Linked DNA regions of Homo sapiens: region 2 is linked to region 1. A link means that fine-mapping ties the variant in region 1 to the expression of a gene that starts in the linked region. Tissue or cell type: whole blood. Region 1 holds a variant in brackets; the other region holds the start of a gene. All regions are shown on one strand. Distances are between the middles of the regions.

Region 1 (8,000 bases):
ACCTGGTCTCAAACGTCCGGCCCAGGACTGTGAGAAGTCAGCGTCTGATGCTGAAGCCCCAGTCTGTGCTACTGTGTGACACGGCCCCAGCCGACGAAGACAGTGCCCAAACCAGAAGACGGGCAGGAGGTGGGGCAGGGTGGCTGGCGTCCCAGGAGGCTGTGCAGGCACACCTGCTCATTAAGGAGACACGCGTGGGGAGCGCAGCATCGCAGTGAGGACCCCTCCCGTCCCCAGGCTGAATTCCTCTTTAATGAGACGCCACTTTGGAGAAGCGTTTCAGAGCCCTTCAAAATCCTGGCCTAACTCTCGTCAAAACTGCACAGATTACTTAAGATTTACCGCACAGACACAAACTAAAATAAAATAAAATAAGGCAGCCCAGTGAGAGGCAGCCTCGTGACAGGACCATTTGTAGTCAGATGGAAAAGCCTCCGATTCATCTGCTTAAGCACAGCAGCTTCTGTTTATTTCGCACTTTCATGTCAAATGAATTTGGAAAGAGAAAAAAAGTGACAAGCAGTTAGGGATATAAGTCACATTTCAGCTTCAGTTCAGATTAATGAACTTGCTGGAGCTGGTGAGGGCACCGGCAAATCTACAAATCTCAGAACAACAAAAAAATTAAATCCCCTCAGCAGAGCCTCAGCCTTCAGGGTGACTCCTCCAAAACCCTTCACTGACCTTCTGCCTCGCACCCCTGCATTCCAGGCCCTCTGGGACAGGCTTCACTTCAAGGCAGCAGTCCTGGGGCCCGGGGGAGGGCTGGCCAAGGCCGGCTCTCAGGGACCACTGTGGCATGGCCGAGGTATGCGTAAGGCAGCAGTACAGTAAGCTCCCAGGGTCCCCGAGCCAGAGCAACAGCCCCGTCCTGTGTATTTGGCAGATGCGACGGGCACCACGCTCAGCAGAACAACCCAGTCCCATGCCTCAGCTTCTGGGGAGAGGTGGCACATGGCCAGCACACCGCCAGCATGCCCCCGTCAGCTGTTGCCCCGCCCCAAGCAGCCACATGGCCGGGCATCTGCAGGCCAGGGCAACGCGGCCTCTGATGGGAGCACAGGTGGCACCGTGGATGCCACCCGTTGAGGCAGGAGTCCCGTTCTGCCCTTGGCATACAGGCACTGCTCCTTTTCTCCTCCCACCCTCTGCCCCACCCCAGTCTCCACACATGATGTCTGGCGTGTGCCTCAATGGTGTGCCCATCCTCAGAGACCCTGGCTGGCAGCACACAGAAGCCCCAGAAGCTACTGCCCAGCAGCCTCTGCCTTCCATCTGACAACGACGAGCACTGGCCGGCCACAAACCTGAGGCCACTGGTCAGCACCCAGCCATCTCCCGACCACCTCCCCCAGCACCCAGCCATCCCCCGACCACCTCCTCCAGCACCCAGCCATCTCCCCAACACCTCCCCCAGCACCCAGCCGGCTCCACCACCACCTCCCCCAGCACCCAGCCGGCTCCACCACCACCTCCTCCAGCACCCAACTGTCTCCACCACCACCTCCTCCAGCACCCAACTGTCTCCACCACCACCTCCCCCAGCACCCAGCCGGCTCCACCACCATCCCCTCCAGCACCCAGCCATCCCCCGACCACCTCCTCCAGCACCCAGCCATCTCCCGACCACCTACCTCCTCCAGCACCCAGCTGGCTCCCCACCGCCTCCTCCATGTTCAGGTCCAGAGAAAGCCGCTGACAGGGAGGAGAGGCCCCAGCCCCTATTACAAACCCAGCCATCAACGGGCCCTGACGCTGTCCTCCAGCCTTCCACATGGGCCCAACATGACCACCAGGCCGACAGTAAGTTTCTACTTAAATTAGGAGGGGGAGAGAGAGGGCGCGTGTGCCAAATCACCCCCTGGGACAGGGCAGAGGCCTAGACTCAGGCCGGGCACTCACTTGCCTACCCTCCTTCCCTCGGGCTGCAGGGAAGGGGAGTTTCTAGAGCTTCCCAGAGGAGGGAACAGGCCTAATCACCCTGAGCCCTCCCCAGTGCCCAGGGCAGAGCTAGGGCCAATAGCTCAGGGCCTGGGGCTCTCCAACCGAAAGCTGAGAGGAACTGCAGAGGGGTCCTGGGGGCTCATGGCCAGGAGAGGGGCCCCTTCTCGTGCCTCCTCAGGGCGGTGCAGTCCCCGCCATGAGCATCACAGCCAAGGGGAGGGGACGGGAAAAGAGGGCAGGGGAGGTCCCAGGGACAGGGTCAGAGAGAGGACAAGGTGAGGGCTGTTGTCAGCAGCAGAGCTGTGCAAGCTTCACTGCGGCAGCCTGTGTTACTGTTTCTTGTCCCCACCTTGGGCAGGGCCCAGTCCCATTCCTCTCAGGACGGGTGGTAGAGGTCCTGCCCCCTCCTCCGTCTTTGGGGTTCCAGCTCAGGCCCTGTCCTGAACACCCCACCACAATCAAGCCTAGAGACCCTACCCATTTCGCATGGTACAAGCAGGCAGGGACGGGCTGTCAGGTTCACGCTGCACTGCGCTGCCCCCAACTACACCCTACCCAAGATGCTCAGCCACTCCCAGCACCTGGGACCTTCATGTGCATCCTGGGGCAGGGTCAGCCTGGCCTTCACACACAGACCCCCAGGGCCTTCCCTCAACACTCAGAGCCCCCTGGGCCTCACTGTACTCCCCACTGCCGTCCCTTCGCAGAGCCTCTGCCAGCGGCTCCCTCTCCTCCCAGAGCAGTGCTGTTGGCCTCGTCCATCTCCCAGGAGCTGGCAGCTTCACAGAGAGCAGGCCCGGCTCCATGCTCGGAACTCGCGGGTTTGCTTCAGCAACAGAGCAAGATGCTAAGGCTCTGAGGGCAAGAGGCCTAGATGACTTCCTCTCAGGGTGACCAGATCTCCAATCACAGTGAGGGGTCGGCTGGGGCATCCCACACCGGCGCTGTCCCTCAGCCACTAGTCACCCTGCCTCCCTCCCCTCCCGCGTGTCCACCAGCCCCTGCCAACTCTGACCACCGTGGCTTCCAGGACTGCTGGGGCTTGCCCGCCAGCCCCTCCAGGGATGGGAGAGGGAGCTGGGGCCCAAGGAGAGCTCTGGTCTCAGGCTCCAGCCAGCCAACTGGCAGGACAGCCTGCCTTCTTCCTCTCCATGGCAGCCCTTAGTCCATGGTGGCCTGGGCCTGCCGAGGGAGGGCTGAGGGTCCAGCCACATGCAGGCAGCCCTGGCTCTGATGCAGCACCGGAGATGGCGCATGGGCCAGGCTAGACCAGCCGCTGGCCCAGACGCCCTTTCTGCCTAAACAACCCCGAGCCCAGGCACGCAAACAGGCAACAGCAGGCCAGGCAGCCATGCTGGGACGCAGGTGGCAGGTGACCCTGGGCGAGGCAGGCCCAGCCCACTGGTGGCCATTCTTCCCAGGACTTCCTAAGAGTCGTGCCCCTCAGCTCAGCACCCTCCCCACTCCACTCCCACACCCTATCCACAAGCCCAGGGTTCGTGTCCCGAAGGGTCCCAGACGCCTGGCAAGGAGTGGAACAGGACTGGGGTGAGGCGGTCAGGAAAGCAAGGAGGGCCCCTCACACACCCCCTCAGCCACATGTGCATCCTGGGGCGGACTCAGCCTGGCCTTCACACACGGAGAAGACACTGAGGCCTGGAGCCCATGGCCACCAACCACAGCCAGGGCCTCCAGGGGTGGGCTGAATTCAGGCTTCTGGTGCTGGGGCCCTTGATCCATCAAAGGCGATGCCTGCTCCACCTCCTGCCCACCCATGCCTGTGGTGCAGCCCCTACACCAGGGCACTCAGAGAGTCACGGCCGCTCCCTGCAGGGCAGCTGGCCAGGCTTCACTTTGGAAGGACAGGGAACTTGGAGGGAGCCTATCAGCTGACCCGCTGCTCTCAGCCACATGGCGCCGACAGGAGGCCCTGGGCGCTGGGCCGGCTGCCACCTCCTCCTCCTCCCGGCCTCCTCAGCCCCAGGGCATGGGCACTTGTTTCTGTGCAACAACACCATCAGGGCCCTCCTGGGCAGGCCCAGCTACAGGAACCAGACCAGCCGGACCCAAACCAGACGCCTTCTTGGCCTTCAGAATCCAGAAGGAGAGGCCCTGCTGGGTCCGCCCTGAGGAAAATCATCACTTGGCCCCGAGCCGCACCCCTGGGAGAGGTGGACCCTCGACGTCGGGCTGACGACGACCACAGGACGGGAAGCAGGAGCGGAGAATCCATAAATCTGAACCTCATTC[C/G]CGATGATCCGGGGCTCTTATTAAGTAAATTAATTTAAGTTAATTTAGCTCGATCATGACTCCCGATCACAGTGATTTAGTGTGGGGGAAATTGCATTAGGAAAGGCCATGCTCACCAGATAGAAGAACGGAAGAAAATTAGATCCACTTAGCAATGTGAATTAATATGGAAATAGCAGGTGTAAATTTAACCTTATCGAGAGAATAAAAATTATCTTCATAAATTTGCAGAAATAGCCCCCGAGATGCTTATAAATCTATTTAAAACAAAAATATTACAAAAAGTGCAGTAAAATTAATTTAAAATATACTCCAGCTATTGCCTCCAGAAAACTCAGCAGCAGGGCCAAGCTGAGTGTGGCCTGGTGATACGGGAGGCAGCAGGACACCACCTGGTGGGCTCGCCAGCTGGCTGACCTGCCACGAGGCTCCAGAGCTGGGTAGGGCTGTCCATACTGGTGGGTGGATCCCCTGGGGTTAGCCTCAGGCCTGGAAACCTCTGGCTAGCAGCAGGGAACCACCAGGCAGCTACGGTCCGGTGGGTGGCCGTGCCCTGGGCCGTGGCTGCTCGCCCTGAGGCCCTGCCCACCATCTCTGGCCCACGCCACTCCCCCAGGAGCAGATTCCCGCGGGGAGGGTCAGAAGACAGAGGGAGGGGTCTGCCACTGCCTGCTTCCCATCTGCCTGCCAGAGCTATTACCCTCTCCCAACCTGGAGATGGGGCACCACCACCACAGCAAAGGAAGGGGCCAACCTCCTAGAGCCAGGCCTCCTGAGGCCCAGAGGCTGAGCAACCTTGACTGAGCAGGTGGCAAAGCCTCCCGGGATAGCGGCCCCAGGAGGGCAAAAGCTGTTCCCTGCCGACAGAGCCGCCCTCCCAGCCTGCATCGAGGTCAGAGTGCGAGTGGGGGCCAGAACACGGACAGGCAGCCAGCAGCAGGGCAAGGAGTAGCTCACATCACCGCCTTGACAATCATACATTGACAGCTTCCAGACAGACCACTGAAGGCCCAGCCTCTCCCACCAGAAGCTTCTCCCCGAGAGATGCTCAGACAGCACATGGCGTGGGCCCTGACCGTCTGGGCAGCAGAAGCTTTCATGGCACAGAGCCCTCACCAGCTAATAGGCTTGCTGAGAACAGCAGAGCATGTGTGTGCATGTGTGTCCGTCCGTCTTCACGTGTATGTGGTAAACACAAGCTGGCCTCCTATTTGGTGCAGAAATTGCTAAAGACACAGAAAAATCAGGCTGGTCCCCAGCCAACGAGCCCAACACCAAGCAGTTCTGGGATGTGCTCAGCTCCCCCTGGCCCTTGGATTCTACCCTGCAGCCCTCAGGGCAGGGCCAGACAGCCCAGTTCCCAGGCCTGCAGGAGCCTGCAGGAAGCCTTCCTACCTGGATAGTGAGAGCCGCCGGGCCCGCCAGGAGGGCAGAGACAGGGGGAAGGGCGGGGCGCTGAGAGGCGAGGCCGGCGTCTTCTTGACAATGCGGTAGCGGGTCTTGATCACCTTGCTGGTGGGTGCAGTCCGCACGGCATGCAGGCTGGACGCTGTAGAGAAAACCCAGGGCACAGACATGGGTCAGGGAAGGCCGGCAAGGGTAGGGTCAGAGAGGCCACCCACAGTGCCAGCTCTGCCCACCGCCTCCGCCGGAGCTTGAAGACCCTCCATCGCCCCGTGGATAAAACCCTCAACCCATGTGGCACACACATCCCCAGGGCGCCTGGCAGCCGACGCTTCAGGAGCTAGCCAGTGCAGCCTCTGAGAGGCGGGCACCAGCCCCGCACACCCTCCAGCCATCTGGAGAAACAAGGGAATGCCCACACCACAGGAAAACCAGGAGAAGCCAGGGGTCTGGCAGCCGGGGATGCCTTGGAGTCCCCTAGACAGTATCCGCAACAGGGGGACTCGAGGTGGCTGACTGACTTCCAGCAGAGCAGTGAGGAAGGCAGATGGGCCACCTCCACCCAGGCCAGAGGGGCGGGGCTGGGAGGCTCCTGGCCTGTGCCCTGCACAGGGGAGGGGCGCTGGAGCACTCACCTCCTCAAGCGGCACCTCCTCACCGCTGTGCCCAGACAGACTTATGTACTTAGTCACTGTTTTCATAACATTTTGCAGGGTGATAGACACGACGGCTTTTTTCTTGCTGAATGTTTCATGCAATTAACAGGAATCTTTTGCCCGAGTTCCCTTCCACTTGATAGCTGGCAATTTACCCACAGCTTCGAGGGTTGCGTCTAATTGCCCAGCTTGCATCATGTACAGCTCTGACTGCCCAGATCATTAAAGCTAACTCAGCAGTGGGCACAGGCCCGCCTTCCCAACAGCTTCCCTGGCAGCCCAAGGCTCAGGGGCTGCTGCAAGAGGCCCCCGCCCCCCTCCACCCCCTTCAGGGTCGCCCACAGGAGGACCCCACCCAGCCCAGCCCAGGGGACCTCACTTCCTTCCAGTCAGTGCCCAGCTTCCCCTGTGCCCGGGACCCCTGACTGCCCAGGACACACCCTCTTGGCCCCCACAGCCAAACAGCCCTCGAGGCACCCTGCTCCTTGGACAGGACCAGTAACTGTTACCATTTCCCAAATTCTTTTCCAGAGCCCTAAACGCAACGGACCTTGAGCAGCCAGGGCCCCTCCTTGAGGCCGAGCTTCTAGCCCATCTCTCCACAGACTCGCTCACTCTCCTGCCCACACTGCCCTGTCCAGATGTCAGCAAAGAGCCCCTCCCTCAGGCGTTCCCCCAGCACCATCCAAGCTGCAGCCTCTACTCAGGCACCTGTCAGCCTGCACAGGAGCAAGTCAGGAACACTTGGCCCCAACATGACATCAAAGCCTTCCCCAGAGTCCCCCAGAGTCCACATCAGAGAGTCTGCCGATTGTATTTTCAAGGTCTTACAAACAAGGAGAAACCAGCAAAAAAATCAATAATAGCTTGTTTCAACTAAGCGCTGGAGAACGTAAGAAGTCCTTAAGTTATCAATAACCCCGAGGTGACCTCACCACCTTCCAGCCCTGCTGCAGGCTCCTTGCTTCTGCCTGAGGAGAGCATGGGCTGCCCGGCTGCTCCTGCCCCACCTGGGCCAAGCTGGGGGCCAGCCTTGGCACCTGGGCAGTCAGGGCACCCACTGGAGCACTGCCAGCCATGGGGCCGGGCCTCAGGGCTGCCACCAGCCCACCCCCAACCCCAGAGTGCCCAAATGGCCCACTTGCCAGCCTGCAGCCTGCTTCCCACCATGGCTTCCCACAAGCCTCCCAGGCCGCCCAATGCCTGCTGCTCTGGGACGCAGAGCCTGGGGCGATGCTGGCCCCTTGGAGCCACAGCATGACAAAGCTAGGGTACAGTCCTGCTCAGAGGCCAGGTGGGGCCAAGCAAGGCAGGAGGGACACTGGGCCACACTCGGGACACTGGGCCACCCTCGGGCCCCGGGGGTTCATGTTCCCCTCCCCATCAACCTCTTTCCCCAAATTCTAAGTACAGGAGCCCCCAGACCTGGCCCAGCTCCATTCCCGTCGCCAAATGCACAGCCTCCCTTCGGCTAAAATCACTTCTAACCTTGGGAACCAGAGCTCGCCCTCCCTCCCAGGTCCAGCACATGCCAAGTCCTCTAGGAATTCCCAGCCCCGACTGCACACAGGACTGGACTCTGCATTCTAGAACACTTCTGCCCAGGAGGGGCAGCTTGGGGCAGGCAGGGCCTGGCGGGCGGCGGCACCATGATCACACTCCTGCGCAGTGCTGGCAGTGGTCAGGTCAGGCTTCTTTGCCTTACTGCGTGTTACTTCTTAGTGCCCAAGTGTCACTCCTGAAAAC
Region 2 (8,000 bases), 71 kb after region 1:
CAGTGCTGGAGGTGGGGCCTGGTGGGAAGTGATTGGATCCTGGGGGCAACTTCCCCCTTTGGTGCTGTTCCCATGATAAGACTTCTCAAGATCTGGTTGTCTGGAAGTGCGTGGCACCGCCCCACCCCTTCCTCCGGCCATGTAAGACCTGCCCGCTTCCGCTTCCACCAAGATGGTAAGTTTCCTGAAGCCTCCCCAGCCATGCTTCCTGTACCTGCAGAACCACAGGCCAATTAAACCTCTCTTCCTTAGAAATTACCCAGTCTCAGGTATTTCTTTACAGCAGTGCAAGAACGGAAGAATACAGCCACTCTGGCTGGGCCCCTCGGAGTGCGCGGGTGCCCTGGGGGTGCCTGGGGTGTGGTGTGTTCTGTCCAATGTGTGTGAGTCTGTATCTCTCTCCTAGCTCGTACTCCCCGGGGCTGGCTGGACTGGGCCTCTGCTCCAAGTCCCCACCCTCCACCCTCAGCCAACCACACAGTGGTGCTGCCCACCCTGAAGCCCGGGGAGCCAGGTGAGCTGGTCTGGTGGAATGCCTGGGCAGACGGAAGTGCCCCAGGCGGTCAGCATTCCCCCCACACCCTTGCCTGTCTGTGCCACCTCAGGCTGCTTCGACAAGAGAGGCCCAGGCCCCCAGCCTCCACTTCCTGCCAAGCCTAGAACCTCTCCCCCAAGCAGTTCCTCTTGAAGCTCACGTTGCCCAAACTGGCGGAACCCTGAGATCAGGAACTTGCTGGTGCAGAGGCAGGGCCAGCCCAGCACAGCCACGTGCAGTGCCACTCTGGCCAGGTGTCTGGGGCTGAGTCATCTCCTGGAGCTTCAACTTCTTCCCCATTCTTCCTCTCCTTCCGTGGGCTGCTGGGTCAGGAGCTGTGTCCCTGACGCCAGATGCCAGGGTGGTGCTGGGTTGGCAGCAGCAGTGGCAGGAGACACCTGAGCACTCCCTTTTGACTTGGGGAGTTTGAGACGTCTTCACTGACCCTGAGCCTGGGGGGCAGTGCCTAGGCAGGCGTGGGAGCCCAGGGCCACGGCTGGACCCTCTTACCTGGCACTACCCCCAACCCTGTCCTGTCCCCAGCCTGCCTCTAGCAAGGAAAGGTCTGCAGCAACTCCCTCAACTCCAAGGCAGACACCAAAGCCCTCCCTGCCTGTGGCTTTGTAGTTCTAGTGTGGGATCTGACTCCCCACAGCCTACCCAAAGCCGGGGAACTCCTCACTGCCCTTCGGGCTTCAGCACAGGGCTGTCTCCCACGCCGGCAGGGCCTGTGCTTTCACTGGGATGCAAATCTTCCTGCTACCTCGAGCTCAGATTCCCGACTCCAGCCCAGCCGCAGCCCGGGAGGCGCAGCCCGTGGGCTGGGTGAACAAACGACACAAACAACACAGGACAAGCTGTGGGGAAAAGTGAGTGATTCGTGTTGTTTCCAGTCAGCCCCGCTCCGAGTCTCAGGGGGACTGCCCCGCACACAGACTGTTCACCAGGGCCTGCAGCCTCTCGGACAGCACCACCTGCAGGGAGCAGAGGACAGGAGCGGTGGGCAGGGTGAGGGCGGGGGCGCACAGGGCAGAATGACAGGGTGGGCCTCCCCCCAACCTGGTACTGTGCAGGGCTCCGCAGCCGCCTGTGCTCAGGGCTGAGTCGGCTCAGGGACAGCTGGGCCAAGGCTCTAGACTCTGCCAGGGATGGGAGCGGCTCACACAGCTGCAGGGAGGAGGTAAGGAAAGAGAAGCTTGGGGCTAGCTCCCAGTCAGGGCTCTACCGGGGCTGGGGGTCAGGATGAGGGCGGTGGGGCAGCCACCTGTCCCTGCTGGAGGCAGAGCCGCAGTAGTGGCTCCACCTGGGCTGGCCTCACGGTGCAGGGCTCCTGGGCCCCTGGAGGCCACACCCTCAGCTCCTGCCCAGCCTGTGGCACTGGCTCTTCTGCTAACTGCAGCATGTCCATGAGTGGAGACCCTGTGTGGACGGGGCAAGAATAAGCGGGGGCCCTGGTGCTTTGAAGGTGGACAGCAGGGGGGATGGGAGGGCCTCACCGTCAGAGCCCAGGAGCCGGAAAGCAGCCTTGCTCCCAGGCAACGTCTGCTTCTCGGGGTCCTCGGTCAGCTTCATTCGTGGCTGGCCCCCCACGGCCACCAGCTGCAGGAAGAGGGCGTTGAGCTGGCTGGTCCTTATCCCCCACCCAGCACCATCCCTCAGACCTGCCCCCACCTGGGCCCCCGACACTGTCCCTACCTTATAGACGCCACCCAGGGAAGGCTGTTGGGGGCAGGTGACCACACTGGTGCCAATGCCAATGACATTCACCTCACTGCCCTGGGTGGGGAAGGGGGTGGCCGTGAGCCCAGCTGCCCTGGGTGGGGAAGGGGGTGGCACTGCCCTGGGTGGGGAAGGAGGTGGCACTGCCCTGGGTGGGGAAGGGGGTGGCAGTGCCCTGGGTGGGGAAGGAGGTGCCAGTGCCCTAGGTGGGGAAGGAGGTGGCACTGCCCTGGGTGAAGGGGGTGGCAGTGCCCTGGGTGGGGAAGGGGGTGGCAGTGCCCTGGGTGGGGGAAGGAGGTGGCAGTGCCCTGGGTGGGGAAGGGGGTGGCAGTGCCCTGGGCGGGGAAGGAGGTGGCAATGAGCCCAGCCAGAACCTGCAGGGGCCCCCAGAGCCCCCCAGCCACCCTCCGCCTACCCACTCATCCACCCCACCTCCTGGGCCAGTCGGGCCAGCGCCTCCTCGTCAATGTTGTTGCTGACTACGATGAGGACTGACTCCAGCCAGGGCACCTGGAACCTGCCGCGTGGGTGGAGAAAGGGTGGGGGCCACCCCTCGGGTCTTCCTGATTCACCCTGGTGTCCCCCTGCTCCCCGCCCCGCCTCAGTCAAGGACACCTGTGCTCACCTTCTGCTTGGGAGCTCCTAGGGAGCCCCACCACTTACTTCCCTGCCACGGCCTGCAGTATCACCGCTGAAACTTCAGCAGAGTACCTCACTGTCCTTCCCTGCCCATTCCCAAACCCCGGGGATCTCCCACCAGGCACACCTCCTCCCCGGGAAACTCACTGGGCTGCAGCAGCTCGGAAGACCTTGCGGATCTCCTGAGCCTGCTGTAGCAGGTCACCACTGTCCAGCCTCACGCCCACTGCCCGGTAGCCCAGCTCTCCCAGGGCCAGGGCGACTGCTAGGAAGTTGGGGAGACCACTCCTGCAGAAATAGATAAGGGAGTCAGAGGCTGCTGAGGTTCTGCTGAGCCCACCCCTAAAGTGCCCGGGCTCACCTCCACACGCTGTAGGTGTCCAGGAGGCCCTGGAAGGCCCGGGGAAAAGCCAAGGCATAGGCCACAAAGGCTGCCCGCTCGCCTGGATGCGGCTCCTGCACCCCCAGCCCCAGGTGGGCACACACCTGCTCCAGCCACACCTGGGCTTTGGCCGCCAGGTCCACCCCAGGGCCCTCACCAGCTGCTGGCGCCAACATCTGTGGAACAGAGTCGGTGAAGAATGGGGGCCAGGAATGCAGGATGAGGCCTGGGAGCAGCCAGGGACACCCTAGTTTGAGAGCAAAGGTAATGCAGCCCGTGCCAGCTTCCTGGGACAGCACTGGGGTGACCTGCCTGGGTGGCACACCTCTCGCCAGGGCAAGGGCTGGCTTGGGGCCTGTCGCCTGGAGACAGCAGGGTTTAGAGGAGGGACTGACCGGGTCAGGGGGCACCTCGCTGCCTGAAAAGGAAGTGACGAAGGAGTGGGCCAGGGTCCCGGCCACCGGCACACCTCGCAGCTGGCCCGCTAGCACGTTGCTGCTGCTGTCGAAGCCTGGGGAGGAAGGCGGTGGGATTGGGGGACCTCGGGCCAAGATGGGGCTCCTCCTTCCCGGCCCTTGCCTTGCCCCGCACCAGACACTCACCGCCCAGGTAGCTGTAGGTGGAGGCTGTCAGGCCCCCATCGGGGCCCTGAGCCCGCCTCAGGCCCATCTCTAGCAGCCGCTTCTCTGGCCCTGCGATCAAGCGAAGCCGCGCTGCGTTGGTGGCCACCAGGCTGTGGGGAGCCAAGAGTCAGGGGGTCCCAGGGTGAGGATCACTAGGCCACCCAAGACGGCGGTTACCTGGGGCCTGGAACTTCCAACCTGGGAGCTCCACCCTCACCCAGCCCCTCCTTACACCCTGAAGAGTGGGGGCGGGAGGCCAGTCCTGGGACCCCTGGGCAGCCAGCCCCGCCGCCACAGTCCAGCACGGAGCCCCGGCGCTGGGGGCCCATCCCATGCCCACGCTCCCTGCCAGTGGCCCGCAGCCCACCTGGCGTAGCTGACCAGGCAGAGCAGCGGTGTCTCCAGCAGCTGCACCACCAGGAGCGGCCCGGACACCTGCAGGAGCGGCACCTGCGGGGAGAGAAGTCAGCTCCGCGCTCGGCCCAGCACCCCGTGGCCGCCGCGCCGCCCGCTTACCCCTACTCACTCCGGGGAAGGCGAGGGAGCCCTCGGGCAGGGCTCGCACCGTCACCTCGGAGCAGTCGAGGGCCCGAAGGTGCTCGAAGAACGCAGGATCCGTGTCTGGGGGCAGCACCGAGGCCAGGAACTGCACGTCTGGAAACGAGGTAACTGCGCTGAGACCAGCGCGGGGACAGACCGGTCGTGGGACATGGGGGGTTCCACGGGGGGACAAGGACTTCCACCGGCCATAGGTGGGGGTTTCTGCCGGGCGTGGGGGGCTCGTCGCGCGGACGGGGGACTACCGGCGTCCCGCAGGCGGAAGGCGCGCAGGAAGCGCACACAGTCGCGCAAGCCGGCGGCCAAGGCGAAGGCGCCGCCGAACGGGCAGCGGCGGAAGAAGAGCTCGAACTCGGCGGCGTCCCGCGCCCGGCCCGCGCGCCAATAGCCCAACGCCATGGTGGCCTGGTAGAGGTCAGTGAGCAGCGGCCGCGCCGCCGCGCGCGCCTCGGGGTCCTGCTCCGCCGCCATCCTGCTCCCGACGTCCGGACTCCGCCCCGCCCCGACCCCGTGACGCGCCCCGGCCTATGGCGCACTCCCTGTGGGGCTTATCGTGCCGTTTGGGAGCGGCACGGGACTCGATGGAGGACGGGTGGGGCTAATAGTATCGGCGCGCCGAGAGGGGCTGAAACAGCTGGACCCGGGATGGGGTGGGGGATGTCACCCAACTCCTCTCGGACCCCCCAACCCCACTCCAGGCCCAACGGCCTCTTTGGAGCGCAGCCCGGTCTTGGTCACCAGAGGTGCCCCCAGTCGCTCGTGTCTCTGCCCTTTGGCCGGGCAATGAGGTGCAGCTCAGGACTTGCCAGGCGGCGGAAAGGGTGGAGGACAGACCAGCCAGACTCCACCCCCACCGACCCAGAAGACAACCGCTGGCCAGCAGCCAGCTCCTGCCCTGGGCCTGGGGAGGGAGGCCAGAGGCTGCCTTAGTTAGAGCTTGAGCAGCCAGGCTAGGACGAGGCAGCCCAGATGGACGCAAATGTCGCTTGGAAAGAGCTTGGCACCCAGGAAAGGGCGGCGTGGGGCAGGGGGGCGCATGCCCACTGTCGGCTGGCACCAAAAGACCTTTTGTGGCTATGAAGGCCCAGTGTCCCTCAGTGGTGGCTTTTATGGGGTCCTGCAGTCCAAGCCCCACAGGAAACTTTCTAAAGGTTTGAGGGCAAAGTCAGGGGCCACTACCCAGGGAGAATCCATTCCCCTGTGGCTTGGGGCCCCGAGGACAGAGTCTGACCAGAAGTAATCAAGTAATTACACCCCATCCTCTTTCACCCCAATGCAAACACGGGTGGTCCAGGGGAGGGAGTGTGGCCACCCATGCTGACCACATACGGCTGTCAGGATGCTGAGGCACAGCTCCACAGAGCCCAGGCAGCCACGTTCTGGCCACCCCAGAACATCATGGGAGGGGCACAGTCCCTGGAGCAAGGGGCAGGGATTCCAGGAATGAATGAGGTGAGGGGAGGGCCGGGACAGCACATGACAAAGGGCATGGCAGCAGGGCCGGGTGCTACTGGGACTTCTTTCCTGGACAATTCCAGGCTTGCACGCTTGCTCCCATGGGGACAATGCCAACAGGAGGCAGAGTGGTGGGGTGGTGGCCTCTCCAGATAGTGACCTAACAGTTTCTGTTTCTGGCTTTTTAAACCCCCTGAACTGGACTTGCTTTTGCAATGGAAAGAAGAGGGAGGGCCAGAGCTTTGGGAGGGAGTGGCCAGGAGATGGAGGGACAGGCGGAGGTCTGCTGGGGGCAAGGTGACATGGCCACAGAGGGTGGCAGCAGCCAGGATGACTGTGTGGGAACAGCAGGGCAGAGATGGGGCTGAGACAGGGAGGGAGACAGGCCAGGTACGAGCAGGAAATGACCAGGACGGAGCCAGAGGGCCGGTCTCAGTCTTTAATCGTGGCAGGGCCTCACGCACGCGCGCACGTACACACACTCAGGCTTCAGATCTTGTTGAAAGCTGCGATATCGACACTCTGCACCTGAGGAGAGGCGGAGGGTGACGGTCAGGGCTGTTCCCCTACAGCCCACTCGGAGCCAGGAGCCTCCTCTGAGGTGGGGTTCACTCTGGGACTCGCTCCCCACTGCCGTGGGGTGGAGTGCAGGGTATGGGCCAGGGTCCCCAGTCTCCTCTCCCCTCCTCTCCCCGGCCGGCTCACTCACGTGCTCCTCAAACTTGGTGATCTCCTCCTCCAGCAAGTCTGTCCCCACCTTGTCGTCCTCCACCACACACTGAATCTGTAGCTTCCGGATACCGTAGCCCACGGGCACCAGCTTGGAAGCCCCCCAGACCAGCCCGTCCAGCTGGATAGAGCGCACACAGGCCTCCAGCTGGGCCATGTCCGTCTCATCATCCCACTGTGGGGAAAGGGGAGGAAAAGCTGGGGTCAGCCACCCTCAGAACACCCAGGAAGTACCTGCATGCACCCTACCCTCAACCACTGTGTGTCCACAATTCTGTTTCCTTAAAGGGCCCACAGAAAACAATCCAAATTCACACCTTCCTGCCTCCAAGTTTGTGTTTATCCCAAGACTTCTAAACTCGGCTTTAAAGTCTCCCCAGAACCCAGAGGGCAGGGGGAGGGTCACAGGCTGAGCCGGCTAGGCGGGCACCAGGGCAGTGCCTGGCCCCCTGAAGCCCCACCCCGCCCACTCACAGGCTTGACATCCAGCAGGATGGAGGACTTGGCCACCAGTGCAGGCTTCTTGGCCTTCTTCTCCGCGTACTGCCGTAGCCGCTCCTCCCGCAGCTGTGCCGCCTCCTTGTCCTCCTCCTCATTGTCACTGCCAAACAGGTCAATGTCATCATCCTCGTCATCCTCTGCTGGTGTGGCTGGCTTCTTGGCTGGGGGCTCCACTTGGCGCATGGGAGATACGTGCTGCCACAGGGGAAGGGACAGGAGGCACGGCTGAGACGCCCCAACCAGGGCCCAGAGCTGCCTGGCCACCTCCTGGCCCTCCTCCCTCCTTTGACTGGAGGAAGGGCAGCCCCTGTGTACCGCAGCTGTGTACATGCAGGGCCCCAGGAAAGACAAAAACTGCCTCCACCTGCCCAGGGCTAACTGTAAACCTTCCTGGGGACCTGAGGACTCCAGTATCCTGGCTGCCAGCTCATCACTGCTGCTGGGGCCAGCCCACAGGGCGACGTGGAAGCCAGCAGGGCCACGTGGTCCCCTGCAGTGTCAGGCGTGGGGAGAGCATTCACCTGGGTCTGTGGGGCCGTGGCCCGGTGGCCAGGCGAGCTCTTCTCCAGCACGTTCAGCCGGGCCTCCAGCTTGGAGATGGCCTGCTGCAGCTCCTGTACCACTGGGGGGGCAAGGGGAGCACGGTTAGATGGCAGGGGCCAGGGACAGCCCCAACCCACTGGCCCGGGGCCTCACCGCCACGCAGACTCTGGTTCTCCACTTCCAGACTGGCAATCCGGACGACGAGCTCACCGTGGTCTCCGCTGGTGCCGCTGGAGGCCCCGGGGCCTGAGCTCTGCAAGGCAGGAGGAGGGGAGGGCTCAGTGCCCAGCCTGCTCCTAGGGTCCCCCTGCCATGC

Evidence for each region. PIP is the estimated chance that this variant, and not a neighbour inherited with it, causes the effect.
Region 2: it holds the start of NAPRT, and the variant in region 1 is fine-mapped to the expression of NAPRT in whole blood (INTERVAL, PIP above 0.99).

The regions. Positions count from the first base shown.
Region 1 is chr8:143,502,157-143,510,156 of GRCh38, forward strand. ZC3H3 (zinc finger CCCH-type containing 3) reads right to left here. Exons shown (of 12, transcript NM_015117.3): 4 at 5,590-5,743. SNORD149 (small nucleolar RNA, C/D box 149) reads right to left here and starts at 4,092; the gene lies at 4,029-4,092. The variant C/G (reference allele first, on the strand shown) is at 4,195.
Region 2 is chr8:143,573,392-143,581,391 of GRCh38, forward strand. NAPRT (nicotinate phosphoribosyltransferase) reads right to left here and starts at 4,939. Exons shown (of 13, transcript NM_145201.6): 1 at 4,702-4,939; 2 at 4,425-4,552; 3 at 4,266-4,348; 4 at 3,878-4,008; 5 at 3,671-3,786; 6 at 3,255-3,451; 7 at 3,041-3,181; 8 at 2,687-2,771; 9 at 2,231-2,311; 10 at 2,032-2,134; 11 at 1,800-1,954; 12 at 1,595-1,702; 13 at 1,394-1,509. The coding sequence starts at 4,927. The coding sequence ends at 1,447. EEF1D (eukaryotic translation elongation factor 1 delta) reads right to left here. Exons shown (of 10, transcript NM_001130053.5): 6 at 7,838-7,937; 7 at 7,663-7,763; 8 at 7,115-7,336; 9 at 6,621-6,815; 10 at 6,337-6,439. The coding sequence ends at 6,401.